Homo sapiens: one gene and its partners. The protein of the gene in region 4 interacts with the protein of the main gene of each other region in a pairwise test. Each region holds a gene or a part of one and is shown on either strand. Other genes may lie near its edges.

Region 1 (8,235 bases), on a different chromosome or scaffold from region 4:
TTTTATTTGATGAGCCAGTTCTTTTAAAACTTGGGAGTTGCTTGCAAACTTTCCTTGAAAGTAAACTTTCCCCCCTAAATCCTTTGTCTATATTTCTTTGACAATTGTGTAGATTCCTCTAAGATTTTGTGTATGCATCAACCAGGGTAAAGTCCACCACATTGTCCATGAAGAGCAACTCAAGGGCTGTTCGAGGTATACATTTTCCAGTCTTGAGGCAATAAAGTCTTCATCTAGTTGATTCAAGTTCTTTTTCTGGCTCTTCATATGTTTTTTGCTTCCTGGCCAAGTCTGCGTTTGACACTGGTTCTGATTTGTAAACAGCCACTTATTTCTCCTTTGGTGGCAGCAATGTTGAAAATACACATTTTAATGGTCGATCCGTTCTTTGTGAGGCAACAATGACAGGACATCTGATTGTACTTTGTTTTTGTCTTGAGGATTCTGTTATCTTCTGTCATCTAAGATACATCTTTTCTTTGCATCTGGGTCTTAAGACATGAGTTTGGTCAAATTGATAGGTTGCATTAGTAGGTTGGAAAGTTGCTCATATTACTCCCTACATCACTGATTTACTTTCTTTCTCATCTTCTGACCATTGACGAAACTTGTTTTTCATTTTTTTGTGCCACTATGAGTTCAAATCAATTAAGAAAAATATTTTTGTGGCCACTGGAATGCAGAGAAGCCCTTGGAGATCTGGAGCTGCTACCATTAACCAATGACTCACGCTTTTTGTACTTTTATTACATTTGATCCATCTGTGGCTAATGTTATAAACTAAGGCTGGTAGTTCTGTGTATTGCTATTATTTTTTGAGATAGGGTCTTGCTCTGTCTCCCAGGTTGGAGTGCAGTGGCATGATCATGGTTCACACGGCCTCCATCTCTGGGGCTCAAGCAATCCTCCCATCTCAGCCTCCCAAGTAGCTGAAACTACAGGCATGCATCACTATGCCTGGCTAATTTTTAAATTTTTTTTGTAGAGATGAGGTCTCACTATGTTGCCAAAGCTGGTCTCAAACTCCTGAGCTCAAGCCATCCTCCCACCTCAGCCTCCCAAAGGACTTGGATTACAGGCGTGAGCTACCACGCCCAGCCTGCGTATTAATTTTTAAAAACCATCTTTTTTCTCCTCAAAAAGGAAGGCATAGTTCTTTGTAATAGTCCATTTGTAATTACACAGCTTTCTTTCTCCAAAGTCAATGTCCTTTCTCCCTCAGAAATATGCTGGAGATTGAACAGTCAGAAAAAAACATCATTTGAACACACTATTTAGGGATATCTAACTCCAACAGACAAATCTACCATGAAAAAGAACAAAATATACACAGTGAACAAACTTGGAAATTGTTTTTATGTAACTTTAGAGCAAAGGGTAGAAACTTTACAGAAGGTTTTGCTTGGTTTGTGTAACCATTCTACAAATAAGCCTGGATCTGTGATGGGATGGGAATGATTGCTGCCAGCTTGTCTGGAACATTATGACCTCTGCAAGAAATCTGAAAAGTTCTCAGTGCATAACATACTCTCTCCCTTCTCAAAAGAAAAGAGTAAAGTATCCATCTTAGACACTGTAATTTATATCCATTAGGCCCTATCTCCTAACACTGCTTCATTGGAGATGGTTTCCAACACAAGGTTTTTTTTTTTTTTTGAGACCAAGACTCACTCTATGGCTCAGGCTGGAGTGCAATGGCATGATCTCGGCTCACTGCACCCTCTGTCTCCTGGGTTCAAGCGATTCTCCTGCCTCAGCCTGATGAGTAGCTGAGACTACAGGTGCATGCCACCACACCCAGCTAATTTTTTTTTTTTTTTTAGTAGAGACGGGGTTTCACCATGTTGGAGGCTGGTCTCAAACTCCTGACCTCAAGTGATCCACCTTCCTTTGCCTCCCAAAGTGCTGGGATTATAGGCGTGAGCCACTACGTTCAGCCCCAACACATGGCTTTTGAGTGACATATTGAAATCATAGCATGTGACTGATTTCTATTTCTAATGGACACAGAAAAATTCTGCCGGGCACAGTGGCTCATGCCTGTAATCCCAGAGCTTTGGGAGGCTGAGGTGGAAGGATTGCTTGAGCCCAGAGTTTGAGACCAGCCTGGGCAGCAAAGTGAGACCGCGTCTCCTCAAAAAAAAAAATTTTTTTTTTTTTTTAATTAGCCAGGTGTGGTGGCATGCACCTGTAGTCCCAGCTACTTGGGAGGCAGAGGCAGGAGGACTGCTTAAGCCCAAGAGTTTGAGGTTGCAGTGAGCTTTGATTGCATTCACTCCACTCCAGCCTGGGTGACAGAACAAGACCCTGAAAAGAAAAAAAAAAAAAAAAGAAAGGTAGGGGGCGGGCTGAGGGGGAAGGAAAGGAAAGATTCCTTTCTTCTTTATCTCAAACTCTCAATAGGCCACCCTTGAATAAACTGGAAGGAAATAATATTCTTTAAATGGTCTCATGTTCCAACTGACCTTTTAGGATTCAGGAAAAAAATTAATAAAAATTATTAATATAACTTGTAAGTAATACAGTGTCAGGAAAATGCAAAAATAATACTGTAGAAAATGACACAATTAAAAAGTACACAAACAATGGTATACATGGTTAAATATTACACAAAAGTATCCCTTTACTTTTCACAGACATGTGGCTATTTGCATAGGTTCAAAAAAAACATGTTCTCCTTCCTACCAGGCAATAATTAACAAATCACTTTTGTAACCATCACCATGCCACACATCTCATTAAAGTAGATATGGCAAACCCATTATTAAGCAAAGCAGTCCAAGCAACTTGGCTGAGGTAAATTGACCGGTTCTTGGTTCCTGACTTCAGTATAGTATGTGGGCAGTATCTTACACATAAAGAAATGACAACCTCTTGGGCTTGAAAAAGCCTCCAGACAAAGTTAACTCCTATGTTGTAGTAACACATGGCCCTAGTTTTATTAACTAGACTTATAAGAAGGTCTTTGTATACTAAGCGTAACCTTTTATCACACTCACATAATAAAACTAGTCATCAAACTAATGATACTAAATCAGAAAATCACTAAGCAAATTTATGGCCAATTCCATGCTTTAGGAGGAAATTTGGAGGCAAGACTGACACCTTAACCAGAGGCCATGATAGGTAAGCAATGCACATCACTTTTGGGTCAGAAAACAAAAAACAATACCGCAGTAAAGGATCAACATAGCAAGTCTTGATTGTGTAAACTTTTCACATTCCAAAGAAATGTTTGTCCTGTGTCCAGATTCAAGATAACCTCTAAGTCCTTGGACTATCCTGCCTGATATGAATGTTTTAATTTACTTGGGGGCCTTAGGCCATACCAGGTAGTCTAAGCTAACAATGTGATTAATGGTGAAGTCCTTAGGCCATGTAGTATCAGCTCCATCTTTGGAGGGGCTGAAAACTGAAGGTCAGCCACATGGGCTATCAGTCATGCTATGCCTACGTGACCAACCCTCAAGAAAAAATCTGGACACCAAGGCTTGGTGGAGCTTCCCTGGTTAGCAATTCTCCAAGAATGTTGTCACACATTGTTGCTGAGAGAATTATGGTCTGTCTGCTGAGAGAATTATGGTCTGTCTACATGACTTCACAGGTGAAGGACAACTGGAAGCTTGTGCCTGGTGTCCCCCAGACTTTGCCCTATGTGCCTTTTTTCAGCTGCTGATTTTAATATATATTCTTTTGCTATAATATACCATAACCATAACTTAACAGCTTTTCTGAGTTCTGTGAGTCCCTCCAGTGAATCACTGATCCTGAAGGTGGTCTTGGGGACCACCCGAGATAAAACACTGAGGTAAGGTTAACAACAAAAACAGTCACCACACTGTCTAGTTCTCATTTCCCATGTAAATGAAACCTTGAGCCTTTCCTGTAAATTACTAATAACTATATCCCTGGTCTTGGCAATGCTGATATCTAAGGATACATGATGACCTCTGATATGATGATTATCTGAGGAAACTGTTTTCCACCATGAAAAGAATAACTAAACTTGGTGACTTTGGTAATTTTGTAGGTTTTTTCATTTTTTAATTTGATAAGCCTGTCCTCCTAAAGCTTGTACTCCCTTGCAAGACTTCTTTGCATATAAACTCCTAAATGCTTTAATCTTTTAGTGGTTTATGTTTTTTATTTCTGTAGATGGTAGTTTAAACTGATAGTATTTTAGTAGAACGGTTTAAGAGAATCAAACTCTAGGCAGGGCGCGGTGGCTCACACCTGTAATCCCAGCACTTTGGGAGGCTGAGGCGGGCAGTTCACCTAAGGTCAGGAGTTCGAGACCAGCCTGGCTAACACGGTGAAACCCCGTTTCTATTAAAAATGCGAAAAAAAAAAACAGCCGGGTGTGGTGACGCATGCCTGTAATCCCAGCTACTTGGGAGGCTGAGGCAGAAGAATCGCTTGAACCTGGGAGGCGGAGGTTGCAGTGAGCTGAGATCGCGCCATTGCACTCCAGCTTGGGCAACAAGAGCGAAACTCCGTCTCAAAAAAAAAAAAATCAAACTCTACTTTGTGGCATTATTTATGGGAATGCTCTGAGAATGAGAAATCACAGGCAAATATATCATACCCAAACACCAAAGGCACAGCCCTCTTTCGACTTGAGAGCCATTCTGTAAAAGAACAAAGAAAAAAGAACCTGTTTGAAATTTTGGCTTAAGTGTCCACCATTTAAATCATACCTTGAGAGAATCAAGAATGTAATACTGATATAAATTTTTCTAAGCTTATAAAGGAGAAGTTATATACATAAAATAGAATAAGTTTTTTAAAAAATCAATTATTTTTTAGATTAAAGTAAAAGCAGATATCTTTAAAGTAACTTGTTTTTAACTCTGGTACTGACTTTCCCAGCTTTAAATTGGTAGCTTGGTTCATTTCAGGGAAAATGAAGGCAATAATGCTTTTTATGTGTTCAAGCATTTCAACAGTGCTATTCTCTCACATGTATTACATATTTTGGATAAGCTATCTCTGAAAATATTTTGTAAGATATTAAAGATACTTTTGCTAGAAATTGTAAGTTATAAAACCATAAATGTTCCACAGACTTCTCGAGAGCTTTTTAAAATTTAATTTTAAGTGGGTTTCCTGTGCACCAAAATGGTTTATGTTTTAAATAACACATTTGTAAAGTTAAACGGATCTACAGTGATGAAGAGTGAAATACTTTCCAATTCAGCAAGATTCTGGACAATTGCCCTGTAAACATCAATCTTGTATTTCAGGCATGAAATGATTCACATTCTGTACTAGGTTCAGTAACAGGTTTTTCTAAGAAATACCAAAGGTCAATGTACATTTAACTTTAAGGCAAACTAACAACAACAACAACAACAACAAAATGCCTCTCAAGGTTTTTTAGAACCTATCCTAAAATTTACTTAACTACATTAAGCCAAGTCAGGTTGAAAAGTACATTATTTTACATTATTTTAGCTGATTGGAAGGTCTGGCTCACTTTACAATCCTCTGTTCTTAAAGACTAAGATTTCTTTCTTTAATTGTTTAGGTTAACTTTAGTAATTTGTAGTGGTGAATAAACTTCTACAAGTGGGTAGAATCCCATTACAATGGGATTATATTTGGTGGCCTTATTATTGCTCATTACCCTATAACACTTCTTCCTACCTTCTGACCATTGTCCAGAGCAGAGTGGCTTTGCTGATATGGTTATAAGAAATCTATTAAATAGGATATTAAAGGCCAAAGAAATCCTCTCAGGAGTTAGTTTATTTAATGAAGCTATCTTTCAGGTAAGATATTTATCCACTTATTCATTTTAAAATATTCAATCAGGTTGATTGCTGAGTAAGATGACATGTTTTTAAAGAGTACTACATTGGTGGTATTATCAGGTTTTTAATTTTCATGGTGCCACTGACTGTTGATGCTCGGAAAAATAGGGTTTGTCAAATAACAGATCTTTGCTCTCTTCAGATTGGAGACATGCAGATAGTTTTTCTCCGACAAATCTCACATTCTTATTGGTTGTAAAACTGTCTGAAGCACCTACAGAGCAAATTTCTTTCTTAATCATAAGACTCATGCTTGGTTAGATTTTACCAAGAGGTAGCATAATGAGGTCATTTTGTTAAGGGATTCATACTGAATGTATTTATTTGCCCACATTAGAAAACCAGTATTTCTCTAAGGTAAGTTGGCTAGTGTTTGAAAATTGTATTCTATAGACCAGGAAATGCAACAGTATTGATTAAAATGAGACTTGTTATCTGTAAAACACATGAAACAATATTTCTGGGATAAACAATAGATTGGCACATCCATAACAGGGGACTTGGGAGTATTCCTATTTTAAATTGGCTATTCCACTTTTCTCCACACCCTTCAAATTCATTCTCACTGAATACTTATTAAAAGCCAACTTTTTCTTCCCTAAAAAACATTTAGGGCTACATTAAAAATGACAACCCGTACTCACAAAGTTTCACAAAACATAAGCTACCTTAATTATGTGTGATGCACTCTGATCTTTTTTTTTTTTTTTTTTTTTGCTGATGGAGCCTCACTCTGCTGCTCAGGCTAGAGTGCAGTGGCACAATCTCAGCTTACTGCAACCTCCGCCTCCCTGGTTCAAGCAATCCTCTGGCCTTAGCCTCCCGAGTACCCGGGATTACAGGCACATACCACCATGCCCGGCTAATTTTTGTATTTTTAGTAGAGATGGGATTTCACCATGTCGCCCAGGGTGGTCTTGAACTCCTGAGCTCAGGCAATCTGCCCGCCTCGGCCTCCTAAAGTGTTAAGATTTTACAGGCGTGAGCCATCGCACCTGGCCACATTCTGATATTTTCAATACTATTTTATATCATTTAAAAAATGCTGGCCAGGCATGGTGGCTCACGCCTGTAATCCCAGCACTTTGGGACACTGAGGCGGGCAGATTGCCTGAGCTCAGGAGTTCGTGACCAGCCTGGGCAATACAGTGAAACCCCATCTCTACTAAAATACAAAAAATTAGCAGGGCATGGTGGTGCACACCTATAATCCCAGCTACTTGGGAGGCTGAGGCAGGAGAATTGCTTGAACCTGGGAGGTGGAGGTTGCAGTGAGACGAGATTGTACCATTGCACTCCAGCCTGGGTGAAGGAGCGAGACTCCAATCTCAAAAAAAAAAAAAAAAAAAAAATGCTGGTAGTGACCCGCTAAATTGATTTGACAATCCACCGGTATGACTGTATGTACTATGAAAAACACTGACTGGATCCAACCAATGAGGAGGCTGAAGTATGCAGAAATTGAGTGGCTTAAGTTCATAAGGGAAGTGAATGGCAATCATTTACACAATTCTGTGCAAGTCAATACTTGGCCTCTAGAATATAACCTTTCTGTATAATTCTTATTGTTCTGTTTTAGTCTAAGTGATTATTGCTTGATTTTCCCCCACTTCTCCATTTACTTCATTGTTTCATACCCACTTTTTCCACTCATGCCTTTGAATTGGATTATAGACTGGCTATGGCCGGCATTTTGAAATTACTAAAGGAACTGGTATCTTCAATCAAGAAGCCTAATAAAGAGTGAAAATCCTAGACCAATACTGCTACCAGGCAAAAAATTTAAAAAGGTGAAGGTATATAAATCAAGATAGATAGAAAATGAAGAAATTACAAACAGGCCAACTTCTTAAGCACTTTATCGATAGATGAGAACAAACATTTAGTAGGCAAATAAATATTTGAGCATCTGCTCTGTGGTTGTCATTATGCCTTTCATGTCACTTACTGTTTTCTTCCTTTTAAATATATATACATCTTATCTCTCCTCAAGACTATAAGCAACTTGAAAACGGAATTCCATAGTAGCTAATACAGTATTTTGAGATCAATAATTAGAGATCAATAAATACTCACTGATGAACAAGTCAAACATACCAATATCCAAATAAAGAACTCTTGGCTCTCAAACCTCTTCCTCTTAGCATAGTATCAAAGAAAGCACCATTCTGGTGCCCACAGTTGGTGGAACCACACCCTGCCCCTCCCCAAACAAACAATACTGGGCTATTCCTTTTTTCTTTTCTTTTCTTTTTTTTTTTGCTTTGAGGCAGAGTCTTGCTCTGTTGCCCAGGCTGGAGTGCAGTGGCACAATCTCGGCTCACCGCAACCTCTGCCTCCCAGGTTCAAGCAATTATCCTGCCTCAGCCTCCCGAGTAGCTGGACTGCATGCTACCACACCCAGCTAATTTTTTTTTATTTT
Region 2 (8,823 bases), on a different chromosome or scaffold from region 4:
GGGGGTGGATGTCATGCTCTCATTCATGGATAGTAGCAATGCAGTGGACTTCATGGAGGGCCATGTTGGATGAGTATGGGGTTTAAGAAGCAGTGGTGAGATAGGGAAGAGTGGGAGCTCTCAGCAGGCAGGACAGTCTGAGCCAGGGCCTAGGGTGAGTCTCACATGGAAGACCCTGAGCGCGGCCAGAAGGAACAGAGGGTTACCGCTAGGGAAGGTGGGGCTGCTTGGGGAGTATAGAGCTATGGCATGGGGTGGGGGATCCCTGGTGCCCAGGAGAGTTGGGACTTGCCAGTAATGGAGCCCTCAGAATGCACGATGTGCAGATGTACCACTTCTGCCTGAACAAAGCAACATATGCTGTATAAGCTATGCTGCTATCCTGGGCAGGGACACCCCTGAGGAAGGACCATGGTGCGCGCAGTCAGCAGACTGTAGAGACAGGAGGGTTTCAAGCAAGATTTCGAGCCACAGAGGGAAATAGTGGGATTTTGGCACAGACTCTGTGCTTTAGGAAGGAGAAGTACTCTGGGGTCCCAGGAAAGAGGGAAAGCAGCGTCTCTGAGAAGTTGTGCATAGCCCCAGATGGGGTAATAATCCCTTAGTCACTTGTCTGGAGCCTCCTTGACACCAGCAACTGTGTCTCATCCATTGTACCCCCAGCGCCTAGCCCAATCCTGTTCTCTTGAATTCACACCTCACCAACCCCATGAACATTCAGAGCTGGGGCAATGAATGATGCCCAACACCACAGACCATGCATGTGGTAAGGTTAGCCAGGGTCACAGAAGGACCTAGGGCTTCACCAGATGACCTCTGCATGGGTGCAGACTTTCCAGGTCATTCCATGTTGCCCCATAACACACTAACTCTGCCATGACCAGGTGGAATCTATAACGCCCCAGGAGCAGAGGCAGCAACCAGGAGACCTGGTGGAGTAGAAATGAGGAACTGCTCCTAAGCTGGGGAGACCTGCTGCTGCTGTTGCTGGCTGATAAGAGGCCCATAGAGAAGAAGCATGACCCTCCCATCCTCTCAGGTTCTATTTCCAGAGGTACTTGTGCTCAGCTTCATTCTCCTACTCTTCCTCCCCCATGATGCCAAGTAAGAGCTCAACCCAGCTGTTAATGGTAAGACATTATTTCTATGCAATGTGGGTAATTCTGATTAGCTGGGCAATCTGACATACAGGAGTGTGAAGGCAGGATTCAGGGCCTCTCAGGGCAGAAGGCTCTGATTACTTTGTTGAGAATCATCCACTACAACAAGGGATTCAGGATGAGAGAGGAGGCAAAGTGGTGTTTCCATAGCTGGAAGGGAACTTTGACCTTGGGAACCATCGGAGGGAAACATGGGCTAAAGTGCAGGCAATGTGCATGATACCCAGGAGGAGCTAGCAATCCCTTGGGTCTGGTATGTATGGAGGGGGAGACTTGCTGGTCCAGCTCAGCACTGGTTTTGCTGGGATGCAGATTCAGTGTGAGAAGAAGCTGTGCCCTAGTTCACTTGAAGCCACACTTCTCCAGCCCTGTGTACAGGCTGCATTAGTGAGGATGAGCCAGGACTGCCCCAGCCAGAGCCTAATGGTAGACAGGTTTCTTAGTAGTAACCTCCCCATAAAGAAAACTCAATTCTGGAGTCTTCATAAATCATATGAAGGCAAAACACTGGCTGTGGAGGCAAAACACTGGCCCTGGTGCCTGGAAACCACTGGCTTTGCGATGCTGCCTCTGGAAACCTACCTCCACTCATCCTTCTCTCCATCTAGGGGTGGACCTGATCCTGTTTGTGGTCCCAGGTGGCATGGACCAAGACATGGTGGAGCTGGTGCCTTGTGTGCTTTAATCCTGCATGGTCATGGTATCTCAGCCTCAGCAGGTGTTACTGAAGTGATATTTACCACTATCTTCCATGTGAAGAGTTTTGGAGCATTGGAGAGTGGGAGAACTCCAAGAGTGATGTTCCCAAGTCTTAGAGTCTCAGGAGTAAGGTTTCCTTATGAGGATCCAGATCTCTGAAACCAATAACATACATGGCATTGGGTTAGGATAGCAGCATCTTTGTCACCTAATGACTGCTGGAAGTCGACCTCTCTGTGTGGTGCTGATACAGTACCTAGAAAAACAGCATCCCGTGGACACTTCAGAGTGAAGAGGAGAAGAGAGAAGGTCCCCAGGGGCTCACCAGGGCTGAGTCCAGGTAGTCACACTTCCACATCCCACCTCCCCAACCCGTCTACCATCAGAGAAGGCTGGTTGGTTCTTGTGTTTTTGTCTTGCTGTCAGAAAGAGCCAGGGTGAGCCCATGGAGGGAAATGTGAGGGATTTCGAAGGCAGGGTGTAGCCACGATTAACTGGGGGAGTGATAGTTGGTACGGAGCACCAGATGAAATGACTAAGGGCCCCTCTGGGTTAAGAGCAGGACATGGTTCCATCACTGTGATCCAGAACCTCCTATTCTTGGATCAAAATGTTTCCAGCATCCTGGGTTCTTGTAATCTCCCAGGATAGGAATCAAGAGAGATCACCAGACACAGCAGCATAGAGAAAGTTTATTTTAGCTTGTGCACAAGGAAGCTGGCACTGAAGAAGAAAAGAATGGGCTGCTCCTTGAGGGCAGTAGTGTGTGGGTTAGTTTTATAAAGGCTTTCTATGGGGAAGGGTTACATTGGGGCAGGTGTAGGAGAGTTTTTCTAGTGCTTGCACAGTGGCTCAACATGCTTCTTCATATATTATATGTAGCATTAGCATTTTAAATCACCACCCCAGGGGTGATTTTTAGCATTAAAATGAAGAAGGGGTAACTATAGGTTGGAGTTTAAATGTAACTGCACATTTGGGTCTCCAAGGAAGTCCCTAGACCCCCGAAATAGGAGCTTATGGTTATAGCAGTTATAGCTTCTTGGGTCTTCTGTTACTGATTGGCTGGGAGTTAGATAAGCAAGAGCCTGACTGAGGGGCTTTTTTTTTTTTTTTTTTTTTTGAGACAGAATCTCGCTCTATCCCCCAGGCTGGAGTGCAGTGGCATGATCTTGGCTCGCTGCAACGTTTGCCTTCCAGGTTCAAGCGATTCTCATGCCTCAGCCTCCCGAGTAGCTGGGATTACAGGCACCCACCACGACGCCCAGCTAATTTTTGTATTTTTAGTAGAGACGGGGTTTCACCATGTTGGCCAGGCTGGTCTTGAACTCCTGACCTCAGGTGATCTGCCCACCTCAGCCTCCTAAAGTGCTGAGATTACAGGTGTGAGCCACTGTGTGGGGCCGACTGAGGGGCTTTTATCATTTTCCTCCAGACCATCTTAACATAGGAACCTAGCTAGCCTGCCTGTCTCAAATCCTTCCTAAATGGGCCAGATGTAGAACTGTGTTGGCACCTCTGCTTTCCTCATCATTACTCCTAGCCTTTTCCTGTGCTTGCAGGACAAAACTTGGAGGGCACTGGGGCAGGCAGTGAGCAGAGCCTGGCTGGTTGTCCCCAGGAAGGAAGGGGGAGGTCCAGGCCATAAGGGCAAGGTGTCATCTCTGACCAGAGACAGAGTTCTTCTCTGAGGACGCAGGGCAGAGTTCTTCTTCCCGAGGCCATGGGTAACTTGGCCTCCACAAATAAAGGCTGAGGAAGAGGGATGAAACTGGAGGCTTACAGCAGGAATGTCCAGGGAGGGCAGAGGGAAGGGCAGGCAGTCAGTTCAGGACATCACAGACATTCATGGCCAGAGTGTAGAGAGGCTGAAGAAGGTGGGTTTTCTGGAAGACTGTCCCAACCTCTCACGGGCCAGCTGGGCATCCAGGCATCTTCTACCTTACAAGGTAGACCAGCAGAATAGGCACCATTTAGAGATTTAGAAATGCAGTTTTCCAGACCTCACTCTAGACTTTCTGACTCTACGTTTAACCAGAACCCCAAGGCGACGTGTGTGCAGGAAAGTTTGAGAAACCTTATTGAGAGGAGGAGTTCTGGCAGGGCTGGTGGGAGGACACCCCACTAACAGGCAGCATGCAGGGGCTGCCGTGGAGGTGACGTCACACCACATGGTGAGTTGGGGAAAGAGAGAGGCAATGAGCTCCATCTGGCAGTGCTGAGTTTGAGGGGGCTGCTGGAGGGGGCTGCTCAAGACAGCAGCTGCACCTCTGAGCCTCTGCCTCTGCATGGGGCACAGGTTAGAGCCAGAGACATGGATTTGGAGCCCTCAGAAAAGACGGGGACATAGAAGCTGTGAGACTGGATGAGATCACCTAGAGCAAGTGGAGAGTGGGAAGAGGGCCTAGAATGGAGGTTAAGGGGATGCCTGCATATAAAGAGCAGCCAAGGGGAGGAACTTGGCAGAGATTTCAGCAGTCAGTGGCCTAGGGGAAATCCCAGCTGAGCCGGGGGACACAGAAGGGTCAATAGGATTGAATGGCATGGAGCAGTCAGGAGAGCACCAGACAGGGTCCATGAATTTCCAAATTAGGCCATGAGAAAATGTTATATTAAAAGGGCAATCAAAAGTGGAGATAGGCCAGGCGCATTGGCTCACACCTGTAATCCCAACATTTTGGGAGACCAAGGCGGGAGGATTGCTTAAGCAGGAGTTTGAGACCAGCCTGGGCAACATAGTGAGACCGTGTCTCTACAAAAATTACAAAAATTAGCCAGGCGTGGTGGTGCATGCCTGTGATCCCATCTGCTCAGGAGGCTGAGGTGGGAGGATTGTTTGAGCCCAGAAGGTCAAGGCTGCAGTGAGCTGAGATTTCACCACTGTGCTCCAACCTGGGCAACAGAGCAAGACCCTGTCTCAAAAAAAAAAAAAAAAACAAAACAGTGGAGATAGTGGAAAGAAAACTTAATGCCTTTTTAAAAATATAGTTTGGGAAGTGGCTATTAAAAGGACAGTCTATCAGCAGAAGTGACAGTCTATCACTGCAGAAAGTTAAACAGAGCTGATAGGGGAAGCCGACGAACTTGTTGACTTCTGTTTTCTGTGTACAACTGTGGAACAAATAGGGAAGACAAACAGCTGGCTGCTAACTTTGATCACATAAATGGAAGTTAAGGAAAACTGGATCATAAAAGTGATGGATAAGGAAAAAACAGTGCTAAACCATATCTTAAAATATTTTGCTTATTTTTCTCAAAACATTATATATATATGTCATGTTAAAATAGTTTAATAATATTAGTTTTTTTAAAAAAAGACATTAGATTTACCACAATTTTTTAATGGGGGTAGGCATTAGGAACTGGATTGTGATGATGGCTGCACAATTTGGGGAATTTACTAAAAATCATTGAATTGTGCACTTAAAACATGAATTTTCTTCCTTTCGTTCTTTCTTCCTTTCTATCTTCTGACAGGGTCTTGCTCTGTCACCCAGGCTGGAGTGCAGTGGCAAGATAATAGCTCACTGCAGCCTCAATCTTCCAAGCTAAAGTGATCCTCCCACCTTAGCATCCCGAGTAGCTGGGACTGCAGGCACACACCACCACGCTGGGCTAGTTTTGTTTTTTGATTTTTAAATAGAGGTGAGGTTTCTTTTTGTTGCCCAGGCTGGTCTCGAACTCCTAAGCTCAAGTGGTCCTCCCACCTTTGCCTCCCAAAGTGCTTGGATAACGGGTGTCAGCCACTGTACCTGACCTGTAATATTTTTCTGTGCTTGGAAAGTCTTTTGTTGGTCATCTATGATACTTCTCTACAAAAATACAGATGTATAACTTGAGATGAAAGATTTTCTCTTGTTCTCCTGGGACCATACATCTCTGAATATTAAACTCTTTTTTTCTTTTGGATGAAGTTACCAATACAACTTTTAATCACATGTAAGCAAAATAACATAAACATATTACAAATTTTGGTAAATAATAATAATTATTATTGTTATTTTTGAGATGGAGTCTCGCTCTGTCGCCCAGGCTGGAGTGCAGTGGCGTGATCTTGGCTCACTGCAACCTCCGCCTCCCAGGTTCACGCCATTCTCCTGCCTCAGCCTCCCAAGTAGCTGGGACTACAGGCGCCCGCCACCACGCCCGGCTAATTTTTTGTATTTTTAGTAGAGATGGGGTTTCACCGTGTTAGCCAGGACGGTTTCGATCTCCTGACCTCATGATCTGCCCGCCTCGGCCTCCCAAAGTGTTGGGATTACAGGCGTGAGCCACCACGCCTGGCCAATAATTGTTAAATGAAAAATAAAATGGAAATGCATCTCTTAATGAGGTAGATGGAGCTTTTTTAAAAAAAGTTTATTTGTGTATCCATTGATGAAAATTACATATTTTAGACTGCAACAGGAATTAGGGTCAATTGTCTTTCCGCTTTTCATTTTGTTGATGTAAGAACAGAGCAACCTTGCTTAGCTACGTAATCAAACATTGATGGAAATGAAAGTGTTTTATTATAGCAATGTCACTCACATTTTTGAACTCTTTCTGAAATGTGTTTCAAAAAGTACATAGTGATCTATCATGAAAAATTATTTTTAATCATATATTAGCTGACAATTTGATTAGATCCTCCTTCAACTTTATTGAAAGCAAAGAACTGGAAACCACTTAGCTTGAAAACAAATTTTTTCTTATGCATTCATTAATGTCATTCACCCTCCACCATTGATAGCAATACTTCAAATTGTCCTTCCATTTAGTCCCCTGGAGGTGTTTTTTTTTTTTTTTTTTTTTAATTACCAAGCAATGAAATCTTACAGTGCAATGAAATATTCAGGATAAGTGAGAGGTATAGTTTTACTTTTGTAATAAAGAGAAAAAGGACTATTGTGAAAAAAGAATCTACATGAAGCCTCAAATGCTAGTTCCTTCCCAGGCAGAGCAGCTCTGGGAAAGATTAAATATAAAGTTGAGCATCTGGGAGCTGATCCTCCTGAAGCTATCTATACCATGTACCCCTTGGAAAGTCTTCGCATACAGATTCCATAGCCTGAAGAGTGATGGTGGAAATGCCACCCTTTGATGGAGTCTGGAGAGGGAAAGGGGAGAAAGAGAGAATAGCAGCTAGCAGAGAAAGCTGGGTGGAAAGTTTATTTTTAGTCTGGGACAATGAACTAGTCATCTATTGTGGCATAACAAATTATTTCAAAACTTGACAGCTTAAAACAACAAATATTTATTCTCTTGAATCGTTTCTGAGGGTCAAGAACCTGAGAACAGTTCGTCTGGGTGATTGTGGCTCAGAGTCTCTCATGAGGCCTGGTGACCACTTTCCGTTGGTTCTCCTAATACGTCTTATGCCCGCAGCAATGCTGCCAACTTCTTCAGCTCACCTGCCAGCCAACCTTGGTTCACCTGTGTTTCCATATGTTTTTCTTGCTTTTACAGCCACTGGGGACCAGCTCTGGCCAGGACAATTCCGTTTGCCATGATGTGGGTTGAAATCACAACTTCTCCCGGGCGCAGTGGCTCACGCCTCTAATCCCAGCACTTTGGGAGGCCAAGGTGGGTGGATCACAAAGTCAGGAGTTTGAGACCAGCCTGGACAACATGGTGAAACCCCGTCTCTACTAAAAAATACAAAAATTAGCTGGATGTGGTTGCGGATGCCTGTAATCCCAGCTACTTGGGAGGCTGAGTCAGGAGAATCACTTGAAACCAGAAGGCGGTGGTTGAGTGAGCAGAGATCGCGCCACTGCACTCCAGCCTGGGCAACAAGCACAAAACTCCATCTCAAAAAAAAAAAAAAAAAAAGAAAAGAAAAAGAAAAGGAAATCAAAACTTCTTCTATGACATTTGAACTCCCTGTGAAGTTTATCCTGTGTTACAGTTTTTCTCTCAGTCTTAGAGTATCCTTTAGTGTCCTCTTCATAATTACTCTCCTATCATAACTCACCTATCATCTAATACTTTTTTTTTTTTTGAGATGGAGTCTCGCTCCATCACCCAGGCTGAGGTGAAGGAGTGCAATCTCAGCTCACTACAACCTCCGTCTTCTGGGCTCAAGAGACCCTCCTACCTCAGCCTCCTGAGTAGCTGGGATTACAGGCGTGTGCCACCACGCCTGGCTAATTTTTTTGTATTTTTGGTAGAGATGGGTTTTCACCATATTGCCCAGGCTGGTCTCAAACTCCTGAGCTCAAATGATCTGCCCACCTTAGCCTCCTAAAGTGCTGGGTTTACAGGCGTGAGCCACTGTACCTGGCCTAATACTCCTTTAGAGTGAAATGTCTTCCTCTGATATAGCCATAAATGCCTATATTTAGTTCTGATAGACTTGTAGATGATAATCTTCTTCTAACCTCTGATTTATTATCCTACTAGAAAGTTAAGAATTGGAATGTTCATTCTCAGGTTCTGGGGAGGATTTTCTTTGGGGGCGTGTTATATTATTTTGTAGGAAATGCCATTTTGTTATATGGAAAAAAAAATCATAGCTTGAGCTCCTCCAACAAAGTGTTGTAATTTAGAAATTCTTAGGAAACTTCTCATAATGAATCAATTAAAAATTAATAACAATATAGCCAACTCTATGTTGTCTACAAGATACACACGTTAGATTCAAAAATACAAATAGATTGAAACTAAAAGGATAGAAAAAGATAAATCATGTAAACAGCAACCACAAGAAAGCTAGAGGGGCTGTACTGACATCCGAAAAAATGGATTTAAAACAAAAAAGTGTTAGTAGAGATAAAGAGGGATACACTGTCATTAGAAAAGAGCCAATCTGCCTGGCGCAGTGGCTCACACCTGTAATCCCAGCACTTTGGGAGGCCCAGGCGGGCAGATCACGAGGTCAGGAGATCGAGACCATCATGGCTAACATGGTGAAACCCCGTCTCTACTAAAAATACAAAAAATTAGCCAGGCGTGGTGGCGGGCGCCTGTAGTCCCAGCTACT
Region 3 (8,836 bases), on a different chromosome or scaffold from region 4:
TTAATCAAAATGTATCATTCCTTCCAATTATGAATGTATGCCACAAACCACAGTAGTATTAGTAGAACCTGTGACTTTGTCATTAAATATTAGTTTTTTCCTATCACATTAAAGTTATTACGGATATCTTGAAATAATTGTTTACACTCTTACTACTTTTAGGTCAGATGCTAGATCTTGCCATTTAATGCATTAATAAACAAAAATGCTATTATTTTACACATTTTCTTATGTTTTCATAGCTATATTTTCAATATTTTGATGTCCTCTGTAATTCTATGTTTTGCTTGGTGCATTTAAAACCATTCTTAGGCTGGGCGTGGTGGCTCACACCTGTAATCTCAGCACTTTGGGAGGCTGAGGTGGGCGGATCACAAGGTCAAGAGATCGAGACCATCCTAACCAACATGGTGAAACCCCGTCTCTACTAAAAATACAAAAATTAGCTGGGTGTGGTGGCAGGCGCCTGTAGTCCCAGCTACTTGGGAGGCTGAGGCAGGAGAATCGCTTGAACCCAGGAGGTGGAGGTTGCAGTGAGCCGAGATCATGCCACTGCACTCCAGCCTGGAGACAGAGCAAGACTCCGTCTCAAAAAATAAATAAATAAATAAAAAATAAAAATAAAAACCATTCTGAGGAAAGGGTGTGGGCTTCATCAAACTGCCAAAGAGGAATCCCTCCTCCAAAAGGCAAAAGCCCAGGCAGGAGGCAGCTGGGGCAGCTCCTTCTAGATCCCACCCGCCCATCACTGCCAGCCAATGAGGGGCCATATCACAGCCACGCCTTAGGCCAGGCTTATCCAGCTCTGCATTTTCATTTTTGCAGAAGGGATGTTTTCCTGAGAAAGGAGGTCTTTTCGGTAAGTGCTCAGACTTCCTTCAAAGTGAACTTTTCAGGGATTGGGCTAGAATGTACGATCTGCCTAAGAAAGTTTCCTCTCAGATCCTGCCAGTTCTAGACATGTCAGAGTGCAGGCCTTTCTTTTGTTGCTAGATTCTTAGATTTTTCAGAAACCAGCAAACCAGATTTTATGTAAAATCCTCCTCTGACTGTATGCCTGCCTATCTATACATCAACGCAGAAAACCCAACAATACACTTTTGACCTAAAATCACCTCAGGGCTCATTAGTGGCCGGCATCCCAGCGCAGGGAGACCTGTCCCATACACCTCAGATACACTTCCCTTCAGGAGAATGGGATCCAGAGCAGGTTTCTAAGGTGTGATGCCAGCATTTGGCAGCAGAGGGCACTCCTATTACAGGCTGTCTAGGCTGTGTCCTATTTCCTGAGGTGTAGGAGGGAGACCGTCTGTGAAAGGGGCTGAGCTGGGTCAGAGGGCGGGTGACTAGTACTGGGCTGAGGAGGGAGTGAGGGGCCATTGGGATATTGAAAATCCATCCTCCTGTCCTCCCACCCAGCAGTTATGGGCCAGCTGCTCGGGGTGACAGGAATGTCTCCTGGACTAGCCAGCTAGGGCCAGTCTCCCTTGGTCTATGCACCTGTCCCCACGGCTGATGCCAGAGCTTGTGTGTGCTACAGTAGAGGTGGGCAGCAGAAATGACAGCTTTCCAGTGCCAAGTGATCTAGTCCTCTAGAGGTTGTTGGTATCCTTGGGACTAAGAAAATAACTTGGCACATGATAGGCATGCAGTAACTCCTCCCTGTGTTGAGTGTTGAACTAAGGCCCAGTAAGGGAAGAGTGTGAGGGTTCCATGCATGAGGTCTTAGTCAGCTCAAGATTCAGGATTTGGTTTTTGGCTAAGGTAGATCTGGGTGCATGTCAAGTCTACTTTCTTACACCAGCCCTGCAAAGGAGGGCACCCTATTTACACATGGGGAAATTGAGGCTGGTGGAAATAACATGCACAAAGGTATCCTCAGAACTACTTTCTGCAAATTTCAGGGATACAGTGGGAAGAGAGCTGAGAAGCAAATGTCCTTGGCGATTTCACAGTGTCAAGTCAGGAGTGCACACCACTGACTTGTAGGCCCAGGGCAGAGCCTACATGTAATTTAGCTAATTTGATTCTAACAACTCTTCTAGGTAGAGTTTACTTTTCCCATTTTACAGAGGAGAAAAATGAAAGGTCAGAGAGGCTACGTGACTTTCCCAGGGTTATGTAGCTTGGGAATGTGGAATGTAGATGTGTCTTTGACTCCCAAGGCCTGGACTCTTCTCTTTGCTCTTGTGGGTGGCAGAAAATCCTGGGGTGAAAAAAGTGCCCTGACTAGGAGAAGACGGCAGGAACAAGATCCCCCATCCGAATACATGGTGCACAGATATCCCAACTTAGTCCTGGTCCCTGCTCCATCCACTATTTTTTTTTAATGTTTAAAAAATTGTGATAAACTGTACATAATGTAAAATTTGCCATCGTAACCATTTTCAAGTGTACAATTCAGTGGCATTAAGTACATTCACATTATTGTGCAACCATCACTACCATTTATCTCTGGAACTTTTTCATCATTCCCAAACTGAGAATCTGTACTCATGAATCAATAACTACTCATTCCCCCTCCTCCAGCCACTGGTAACCACTATTCTACTTTCTGTCTCTGTGAATGGACTATTCTAGGTACAAGTGGAATCATACAATATTTCCAGGTATAAGTGGAATAATACAATATTTGTCCTTTTGTGTCCAGCTTATTTCATTTAGCATAATGCTTTTGCCTTGATCTGAATGTTTGTGTCCCTGCAAAATGGGGTTGAAATCCTGACCCCCAAGGTGACGGTATTGGGAGGTGGGGCCTTTGGGGGGTGGTTAGGTCATGAAGGTAGAGTCCTCATAATTGGGACTAGTGCCCTTATGAAAGAAACCCCAGAGAGCTAGCCAGCCCCCTTCTACTAAGTGAGGGTGCAGTGAGAAGATGACAGCCTATCAACCAGGAAACAGGCCCTCACCAGGCACCGAATCTGCCAATGTCTTGATTTTGGACTTCCCAGCCTCCAGAACTGTAAGAAAAAAACTTCTATTGTTTATATGCTACCCACTCAATGGTATTTTGTTATAGCAGCCTGAATAGACTAAGACAGTTTTCAAGGTTCATTCATGTGTCAGAATTTCCTTCCCTTTTAAAGTTAATATTACATTGTATGGATATACCACATTTTGCTTATCCATTAATCTGTCGATAGACATTTGAATTGTTTCCACTTTTTGGCTATTGTGAATAATGCTATTATGAACATGAGTATACAAATATCTGTTTGAATCCCTGCTTTCAGTTCTTTGGGGTATATACCCAGAAATGGAATTGTTGGATCTTTTGGCAATTCTTGTTTAATTTTTTGAGGAACTACCATTCTGTATCCACAGTAATGGTACCATTTTACATTCCCACCAGCAATGCACAGGAGTTCCAGTTTCCCTGCAAGTCCTTGACAACGCTTGTTCCCATACACATTTGCTTTGGCTGCCTCAAAATGTAGAGCTTGGCAGATTGAGATTGTGGTGGGACGAAAGCCTTTGAAATGGAAAAAAGAGAAAGAGGGAGGGAGAAGAGTTGCGGAGTGGAGAGAGAGAGAGTGTGTGTGAAAAGGAGCTTTTTTCCCACTCTTCCCTGACCCTCATGGGGGCTGCAGCGACTCCTAGAACCTTCAAGCAGCGAGACAGAGGTTCCCTCCACCAGGCGCAGAGCTCTCCTTACACCTGGCCTCCTATTCCCAGCAACTTTAAGGAGATATTTTTAAGTGGCCATGGTTTTATCAAATGCCTATTAAGTTTTTGCCACAAAAGGATTTTATTTAAAATAAAAATAGGGGTAGGTATTTGACTGATGCCCCTTGTGAGTGCTCTAGAGAAGAGGAATGAATACTGACATGTCCTATCTTCCCAGATGCAGAATTGTAAAACAAACATAACTGCTTTTCACATGTGAAAGAAAACTGGCTTAGAACATACTAGCGTTTTCTTTGCCATGAAGGAGTTCACCTTCAGTGACTAAGCCAGAACTACTAGAGTTGCCGGGCCTAGGGACAGGAGACATTGCCAGTGCTTAGCCAGGCTGGCCAGGACTAACCATCTCTGCAAGGAGTCCACAAGAAGCCTCAGGGCAGCCTTTCCCTGCTCCTATCAATTTGAGTTGAGCAACAAACATTTTGACCAAATATCAGCTCTATGGCACAACTCACAGTTACGGTGCCCACAAAACGGAATCTCAGCAAAGCAACTACTACTATGGGAAGAGATCAGGGACTAATATCAGGAGAAAAAATAAGTTTTTCAGTCCTGGGTTTCCAAGTTGGCATCCCCAGGGCAAACCAGCAGGTTGGGAGGGTAGGGGGTGGTGGGTGGGGGCTGCGGAGGGAAGGTGGCTGCTGTCTGTCTGATCAGACCTGGGGCACACCCAAAGAACTCTCCTAGCTTGGGATCCGGTCAGGAAGAAACCAGGACGGTCCCTTTAGGAGGGTGGGCAGGGCTATCTGCCCGGGGGGTGCGGCCGCCCCTGCACAGCAGGCTATCGATTGTACCGGAGGCAGGGTGTGGGGAAACCGGGGCAAGTCCAGCCTCTCAGCAAGGCCAGGAAGCCATTCACTTGGATCCTGGATTTTACTAACGGATTAAACGTGGCATTCCCGCCTTCCCCCATCCGTTACAGACCTAAAAATAGCTCGTCCGAGAGGGGCCGGGAGAGGCTCCACCTCTTCTTGAGGTGGGGCGGGGCGGCTGTAGTAGGAGCTGGAGGCACCAGAGACCCCAAGCCACGAGCTGACCGACGCACCGAGGAGCTCTCTGTCCGCGGTCCCGCAGGTTGGCGGCACTGGAGTGGGCCGGGCAGGCTCTGCCTCCGCCGCAGAGAGCGCCCGGACTGCGTGGGGCTGGGGAAGCATCCCGGGAACGGCGGGCGGTGAGCATTCCGGGAACCATCTCTGGGCTGTCTGGGGCGGTGGAGCAAGTCTGGAGGCGGGACGTGGGGCGAGTATGGGAGCCGCCACCTCGAGACGTCTTCCCGCCGTCCCCGGCTCCAGGAGACCCCACGGTGAGCGGGCCGCGCGGGAAAACTATGCCAGGAATTCGTCCCGGGAGCGGGGCGGGTGGGTAGCTTGGCTGCAGTCCGAGGGATCAGCGATTCGGGAGGTTAAACATTAGCGGGGGCGAACTCCCTGCCGGGGTGCAGCGGGGCGCGGGAGGAGCCGGCTGCGTGCGTCCGCGCTGCCCAGGGCGCGCCCTTCTGGCCCGGCGCGGCCCTGCAGCCCGGCCCCCTCGGCCTGCTCCGAACTGCGGCGCCCAGGGAGGGAAGGACCCGTGCGCGGGGGACGAATGACGGGATGCCCCAAGACTCGGCTTCACTGGGAAGACGGCCTTGGGTTTTTACTTTTTGAAAAAAGAAAAGTGATTTGGGAGGGCTTGATGATCTGAGTGCCGTAGGTAAAGGAGGATTCTTTTAGTAATGAGGTGATTTAAAAGCAATCGCATTGGCATCTTTCGTTCCCCTTCTTCCTTTCCTGGGCTGGACCTCAGCAGGAGGCAGACGTGGTATTTTCATCCTGAGGTGGCTGCGCATAAAGTCCACCGAAGACCTGCTCAGTGCAGGACAGGGATCAGGAGGCAGGGCAGAGGAGGGGGTCCGAGGCTGCCTGGGCAGGGCCTAGTTCACGGAGCACTTCCTAGGGGCCCAGGGCCTAGGCTGCCCCTGCCTGGTCTCCTGGAATTCGATTTCTAACAGGACTTTGGAGAGAGGCCTGGGAAGTATGGGGTGTTCTGACTTGGCTTCTCACACCCTCATCTGCAGATAGGGTGGGTGATCTCTCCCTTCTCAGTTGCAGCCCCTAGCACCTCTCCTCCCCCTCCCGGATGTGAGGACTGGCCAGTGAGAACAATCCTGCTTAGGGAAGGCTGATCCTCCAGTCTAGTGGCTGATAAGGGGCCTTCTGACTGTCTTGGTCAGACACCTCCCTCATCTGGGAATATTTTTTGATACTATCTAACTTGATAAAATACCTCATGAAGTTGTATGCTTCAGGTTGGGAACAGAAACCTGAGTTCATGTGGGCACCATAACTGTGGGTTGTGCCATGGAGCTGATATTTGGTCAAAGGTTTTTTGCTCAACTCAAATTGATAGGAGCAGGGAAAGGCTGCCCTGAGGCTTCTTGTGGACTCCTTGCAGAGATGGTTAGTCCTGGCCAGCCTGGCTAAGCACTGGCAATGTCTCCTGTCCCTAGGCCTGGCAGCTCTAGTAGTTCTGGCTTAGTCACTGAAGGTGAACTCCTTCATGGCAAAGAAAACGCTAGTATGTTCTAAGCCAGTTTTCTTTTACATGTGAAAAGCAATTATGTTTGTTTGTTTTACAATTCTGCATCTGGGAAGATAGGACATGTCAGTATTCATTCCTCTTCTCTAAAACACTCCCAAGAGACATCAGTCAAATACCTACCCCTATTTTTATTTTAAATAAAATCCGTTTGTGGCAAAAACTTAATAGGCTTTTGATAAAACCATGGCCACTTAAAAATATCTCCTTAAAGTTGCTGGGAATAGGAGGCCAGGTGTAAGGAGAGCGCTGTGCCCGGTTGAGGGGACCTTTGTCTCGCTGCTTGAAGGTTCTAGGAGTCGCTGCAGCCCCCATGAGGGTCAGGGAAGAGTGGAAAAGGAGAACACCATGGAATCTGAGAATAAGGCTAAGCTCTGCAGTGGCAGTACTTCAGGAGAGCTCCCAGGTCCCTGTCATCTCTGTTGAGGTCTCTGGAGCTCCCTTGCATACTGTGTGTGCATAGCCTGTTTGCAAACTGTGTGAAGGTTTCCTTGGCAGCCACAACAATTAGCATTAATGACACGCCTGAGCTCCCCCAGTGGGCACTGCTGAAGTTAGCTTGGGAGCCAGGGCAGGTTTGTAAATGATTGCCTGGCAGCCACCTTGGAAACTTGGCTCCCTCAAGTTCTCCTCTTGACTGCATTCTTGAGGAAGCAGAAGAGACAGTAAAGTGGTGATGTTGTTGTTGTTGTCTAGCTGTCAGTTTATGTTAAAAAATAAGGTGTTTGGCCAATTTTGAGGGAGTTATTTTTGACAGATTATTGGTGGGCCGGTTTTAGAAGAACCATAAAGTCTCCAGGGATTGTTTCACAGTGGGATGGCTGTCTTGTGAGGTGGTGAACAACTTGTCACTGGGAGTGTGCAAAGCAAGGGTGGTAGATGGGTTTTCTATATTCTAGATGGGTGTGGGATTGTCCCAGGCAGAAACCAACTCTTAACAATGAAGCAAGTTTGAATGTTAGCACAAATATTCTTTTGGGTCCCTTATTCATAATATTGGTCTAGGAATGGGAAGTTTCCCAAAACCCTGTCAATATATCTAAAGGTGATTAAACAGCTTCAGTTTTCCTAATGACAGTGAGTCATTTCTTCTCTCTCTTTTTTTTTGAGACGAAGTCTCACTCTGTCGCCCAGGCTGGAGTGCAATGGTGCGATCTCGGCTCACTGCAACCTCTGCTTCCCAGGTTGAAGTGATTCTCCTGCCTCAGCCTCCCGAGTAGCTGGGACTACAGGCATGAGCCACCACGCCCAGCTAATTTTTGTATTTTTAGTAGAGACAGGATTTCGCCATGTTGGCCAGGCTGATTTTGAACTCCTGACCTCAGGCGATCTGCCCTCCTTGGCCTCCCAAAGTGCTGGGATTACAGGCGAGAGCCACTGCTCCTGGTTGACAGTGAGTCATTTCTTCCTTGTGTTTTTATTCCCAGATGTGGGAAAAGCAGTCTGCTCACAATTCGTCTGAAAAAAGCACGATGTCCTTGCCCCTGGGGTGTATGGTTTCCAGGTAACATGCAACACTCTCATTTGGCTTTTTGTCCGCCTATCCTAATCAGGACGCAAGCTGTGGAGCTGAGTCGGGTTCAGACAAGCCCTGCTGAAATACAGGGAGAATTTAGAATCCCCAACACTAACCCTGTGGTGATTTGCTGTAAACTCTGTCAGCGCTTGCACTTTGGTCAAGAAAACTCAGGTATTGTAATTTCCATAATGGAAAATAATTTGTATATCATTATAATTATCATAATTATTAAGAGTTTGGCATAATTCAAAAGCTCTGGAGTCAGATAGAACTTGGTTTGAATCTTGGCTTCATTATTTAGTAGCTGAGTGAGCAGGGATCTTAGCTTCTCTGAGCCTCAGTTTCTACATCTGTGAGATGAGACGAACCATAGCCATCTACAAGGCTATATGAGTTTAGAATTACTACTTTTAAAGGCAGGCACAGTGCCTGACATATAGATGTTTGATAAATATTACCTATTATACTATCATCATATCATCATAATCATCTTCAAGTTCCACAGTTCTGCTCCATCTTTTTTTTTTTTTTTGAGACAGAATTTCATTCTTGTTGCCCAGGCTGGAGTGCAATGGCACAGTCTCTGCTCACGGCTGACTGCAACTTCCACCTCCTGGGTTCAAGCAGTTCTCCTGCTTCAGCCTTCCAAGTAGCTGGGATTACAGGCACCCACCACCATGCCCAGCTAATTTTTGTATTTTTAGTAGAGACGGGGTTTCACCATGTTGGCCAGGCTGGTCTTGAACTCCTGACCTCAGGTGATCCGCCTGTCTCAGCCTCCCAAAGTGCTGGGATTACAGGTGTGAGCCACCATGCCTGGCCCTGCTCCGTCTTATAATGCCAGAGCTCTAGGACATCTAAGAATTGGACCCTTAGGGTTCTAGAAAAAGACATGAGTAATACTTTTGAGGTACATTAAAACCTCATGAACTCAGACCCCTAATTCTGTGTAGTTGGGAGTGGGGCAGCCACCTTCTGTGTTTATGGAGTATGCTCAGAGTGTAAGTATGAAGGTTTCAGGGCTGCTCAGGAAGCAAGCTCCAACACTGAGGCCAT
Region 4 (4,616 bases):
CACTGACACAGTCACACACACATTCACTCACACACTCATGTTCCAGACACACTCACATGCGCACACACATTGAGTGACAAACACACATTGAATGACGCATTCATGCCTGCTCATTGACACACCCACATTTGCAGTCAGCGCACGCACGCACAATGACTCACAAACTCACACACACACTGACACACACTGACACACTCACAGTGTCACACACATTCAGCGACATGCATGCTCACCTTCAATGGCACAGCCTCATTCCCCCACACCCTCCCACTCACACACGCTCAGTGATGCAGTCACATTCTGTCACTTGGATTCACACACATTCTCAGAAACTCATGCACATGCTCACACTGACACACACACGCACACGCTCAAACACACCCGCTCACTCACACTCACACCTGCTTGGGAATCACGGCACACACAGGTCCACTCTGAACAGGGAAAACCAAGGAGCCCTGACAGGCCCTGGCAAGGTCAGCCAAGCTCTATGCCCTCTCCTCTTGCCCTGTCCCCAAAATCTGGAGGGGCCCTTGGAAAGTGAGCAGTTGACTTGGCCCTGCTGAGACACAAGGGACGGACATGCTGGGGTTGTGCCCAGCCTGAAGAAGGCAGGGAGAACAGAGCACAGTGGGGGCCCCAGGCATGCCTGCAGGGCACCCCGATGGGACACACTACAAGGGTCCCTGAGACACCGGTTAAGCACCTTCAGGCCGGGGAGGCTGCAGGCCCAGCCCCAGAGACCTGCCGCCCCCTGCCCCTCCCCGACAGCCCCGCAAAACTACCCCTCCCATGCCTGCACTGGCCTGTGTATGCCGAGTGTCTCCCAGGGCCCCTGCCGCCCTGCAGACCTGCTGACTGCAGCTCCGCTCAAGCAGACAGGTCGCCTAGATCCAGGATTCCTCAGCCCAGGTGGGCAGCCACCCATTCCCAGCATTGGCTCTGAGGCTGCTTTGGGGGAGCCTGGCTATCATCTGAGCCATGGGGATGGCCGGAGGCTCTGTGCTCCAGAACAGCCGGAGGAAGTGTGTGGACACAGACTGAGTGAGCCCCGGGAGACCCTCGCCACGTCCAAGTCAATGATCCCGTCCCCTCCCCACACATGTGCAGGGAGGGGCCTATCACTTGTCCCAGTTCTGTCGCCCACAGACTCTGGGCTAGTTAAATGGCTGATCGAGGACTACCCTCCATTTGTGGCGAGCTCCCTGGCCTGTTGGGAGAGAGAGCCAGTCCCAGGAGGGCTCAGGAGGGCGGGTTCCAGGATCCTCAGGCCCCCACCAAGAACTGCCCCTCTGGCCACAGTGCTGAAGGAGGGGTGTCTGGATTAGCAGCGCCGTCCATCCTGAGGGAGCCCTCCTCAGGCAGCATCCAGGGCTCAGAGGGCCTCGGGGATGCAGGACAGAAAGGGGTCACTCCCCAGGGCCATCTAGGCTTCCTGCTCATGGCCCACTGCCTGCTCCCAGGACACAGGAGTAGAGCGCCTCCCAGTACACTGGGAAGGGAGCAGGACAGGACCCAGGATGAAGTGCAGCTCCCCCGCCCTTCCTCTCCCCCTCCCCAAGACATGAGCACTTGGGATCCCTTTCTCGCCCACACTCTGTCCCCTTGGCCATCACACACACACTGTCCCCAAACATCCCTCAGTGGCTAGGCCAAGGCTGGCCACCTGCGGGCTGATCTGGGAGGATGGGCACACACCAGCCCCTACCCCACCCCGAGTCCTGCACACAGCTCTTCACAGGGCCTCTGACTGCCTGTCCAGGCCCTCCTGGGGCTCTTCTCTGACCTCGGTTGCTGGCCTTGGTTGCACACGTGGCCTCTCTGACCCTTCCGGAAGCCTTGAGCCACACCCCTACAGTGCTGCCAGGGATCAGGGGCCTGGGACCCACCTGCTGCCCCTTGCCCAGCCTTCAATGTCCAAGTCACTTATTCCTGAGGACACCTGGAGTGCCTTTGGTACCCAGCCAGTCACTGCTCATGACCACCAGCATCCTGTTGCCAGGCTCCATGCAGCCCAAGGCACCCCACAGGCCCTCATAGACCCTGCCCCACACACACCTCGATGTCAGCCTGGCCACTGTGGCCCCATCCCCAGCAGACCACCTCCCACCCCAGTTTCACACAGCAGAGGCAAGACACCACTGGAACACTGAACAAAATTTACTGAAGAGAAACATGAACTGAAACTGCTGAAGAAAAGGGAATCTAACACAGAGAGAAACTGCAAACAGCCACTACAGGTCACAAGTCCCCGGCCCCTCCCTCAGTGTGGCCCCCCCCACCACATCCCTCCTTCCATAGGGCCCCAGGATCCACCTCTTGCCAGGATGGTGGGCTCTGGCAATGTGTACTCGCTTCAGGGAACCCCCTCCTGAGCCCACCCGCTGGGGCAGGGCCCTGCCCTATAGACTGCACAGGACAGTCACAGGATGCTGGAAAACATAGCAGGGAACACCCCACCAAGTTGAGGAAACTGAGTCACGAGTAACAGCAGGGGTGGAACGCCAAAGCACAAAGCTTCCTGGGGAGCCTCAGGCAGCCCTGCTCCTTCCCGTGTCTGGTTGGTCCTCCTGCAGTCGAGGTCACAGTCACAAGGTGAGCGTCTGCCATGCCTCCTTCCCACCGTCTCCTGGAACTGCGCTGGGGTACTCTGGAAAGGAGCTGCTCAGATAAAAACACACACATCCCCAAGAGAACAAGCAGCCACTGGCCGAGATCTACACCGGCAAAGCAGAGGTGGAGTTCTTGACACGGAACAGCAGTGAGCAGAGCCCGGGCCTGATGATGACGCAAACCAAAAACAACTACCCACCCCCAACACATCCTCTCTTCTCTTCTTACACTTCTTCCTCCTCCTTCCCCTCTTCCTCCTCCCCCTCTTCCTCCTTCTCCTCCCCCTCTTCCTCCTGCTCCTCCTTATTCTCCTCTTCCTCCTCCCGATCATCCTCTTCTTAATTCTCCTCCTCTTTCTCTTCCTCACTGGTGCAGGGGCTTATGAATGCTGCCTTCCTGGGGCTCCCCTCATGCAGTGTAGATGATCCTAAAGACAGGCTGGACCCTGTGGCCTCCCCTGCGGGGCTTCACTTCTGCCCCACAGCTCTTCCTCAGCAGCCCTGGCTCCTTCTGGCAGAGGCAGGCCCCAGGCAGGCTCCTCCAGGTCCCACGTGGCCTGGGTGCCAGTGGGCATGCTCAGCTCAAAGTCCACAGGGTAGATATTTGGGGGTGTCCAGAGGACCAGGCCAGAGCCCCCAGCCACACCTTCTTCAGCCCCTGCTTCGCTGGGGTCCCCATCTGAAGCCCAGGCACCCCATGTGCTAAGTGTAGTGGTTCCCCGCTTGTGTCTCCTGTACCTGTTAGGGGCTATGGGCCCGGCCCCCACTGAACCAGATGCTATTTGGTCTTGGTTGGTGAAGTCCCTTCCAGCTGGTGGAAAGTAAGGGGGCTTGATCTCGACCTGGCTTCCCTGTCCCTCTGCCCCAGTCAAGTTCCCTGTTAGTGTAAGCTGCCCCTTCCCCTTGTTCAAATGTCCCTGCTGCCTGCCAGGGGAAGGAGTGCTTCGGTCTTCTGAGCCTATGTTTCCCAGGGCTTGGGATGGCTCATGGCCCCAGCCCCTGCCTCGTTTCCCAACTCCTCTCCTGCAGCCTGTGGCCCCTCCCTGCCTGGAGTCTGGTTTTCAGCCTTGGGATACGTGGCCTGGCCATGGTCTTCTCCCCTAGTGCTTTCACTGCCTAACAGCCGCCTGCGTTTCACTAATGGGGGTAAGCCTCCCTGTATGGTCTGGGGGCTGCTGTCGCTAAAAGACCTTGCCTGCACGGTGGCCTGAGGTGCAGAGACACTGGCTTCTGCTCTTGCCTGTCTACCGGAGGCCCCCCGGCCTCTCCCTGATGGCTTCTCCTTATTCTTCATCACTGCCTCAGTGTTCTCCCACTCTTCTTCATCTCGAATGAGCTTCATTAACTCCAGAAAATTGGGAGGACACCCTCGCTGATCCAAGAGCTCCAGCTTGCCCCTGAGGGCGGGGGTCATGGCGACCCGAGCTAAGAGATGTTTCAGACGAATCATGTCTGTGCTGCGCACTGACAAGGGGCTCTTGTGCACGGCTTTCTGCAGCAGGGGCTCTAAGCGCAGCAGGAAAGTGGAGACTTTCTCTCCAATCTTCGGAGAGGTCTGCAGAAACCTAAACTGAGAGGCTCTAAAGTCCTCTTTATCCCCAAAGATCTGCTTTAGGGCGTCAAGGCACTGCTCCACAGTTATGGAGTCATTGTTGGCCTGGAGCACCCGCATGATTGACAGAGCAGGCCCACGTAAGCTCTCCAGCAAACGCCGCCTCTTCTCCACCTCAGACACTTGCCATATGGGCATTATCTCAGTGACCTGCTCTAGCCAGTCTTCAAAGGTCTCTTCGCCTGGGCTAGGGGAAGCAGTTCCCGAAAACACTTTCAGTTTCCTGTACCACATACTTTCTTTCGGAGGCTCTAAAGGTGGGGATCTAACTTGGGGCATGACCTCTGCATCCAGGCTCTCGGCAGGGAGGCTGCAACATCCCAGGGCTCTGGCCACATCTGTCATACTTCGGCCCTCATCTTTCAGGAAGTAGTTCAGTCTACTGAGAAACT

Evidence for each region.
Region 1: the proteins of PNMA5 (region 4) and CEP57L1 interact in binary tests that used the Homo sapiens proteins (3 or more experiments, as listed by UniProt).
Region 2: the proteins of PNMA5 (region 4) and FSD2 interact in binary tests that used the Homo sapiens proteins (3 or more experiments, as listed by UniProt).
Region 3: the proteins of PNMA5 (region 4) and DZIP1L interact in binary tests that used the Homo sapiens proteins (3 or more experiments, as listed by UniProt).

Annotation. Positions count from the first base shown.
Region 1 is NC_000006.12:109,167,521-109,175,755, reverse strand, and holds the end of CEP57L1 (centrosomal protein CEP57L1), read right to left. Parts: 3' UTR 1,338-8,235; downstream 1-1,337. UniProt on the Homo sapiens protein: Centrosomal protein which may be required for microtubule attachment to centrosomes.
Region 2 is NC_000015.10:82,794,851-82,803,673, reverse strand, and holds part of FSD2 (fibronectin type III and SPRY domain-containing protein 2), read left to right. Parts: intron 1-1,035; exon of another isoform or gene 1,036-1,130; intron 1,131-7,307; exon of another isoform or gene 7,308-7,424; intron 7,425-8,823.
Region 3 is NC_000003.12:138,111,479-138,120,314, reverse strand, and holds the start of DZIP1L (cilium assembly protein DZIP1L), read left to right. Parts: upstream 1-4,706; 5' UTR 4,707-4,987; intron 4,988-6,834; exon of another isoform or gene 6,835-6,926; intron 6,927-7,814; exon of another isoform or gene 7,815-7,951; intron 7,952-8,836. UniProt on the Homo sapiens protein: Involved in primary cilium formation. Probably acts as a transition zone protein required for localization of PKD1/PC1 and PKD2/PC2 to the ciliary membrane.
Region 4 is NC_000023.11:152,986,682-152,991,297, forward strand, and holds the end of PNMA5 (paraneoplastic antigen-like protein 5), read right to left. Parts: coding exon 3,571-4,616; 3' UTR 2,143-3,570; downstream 1-2,142.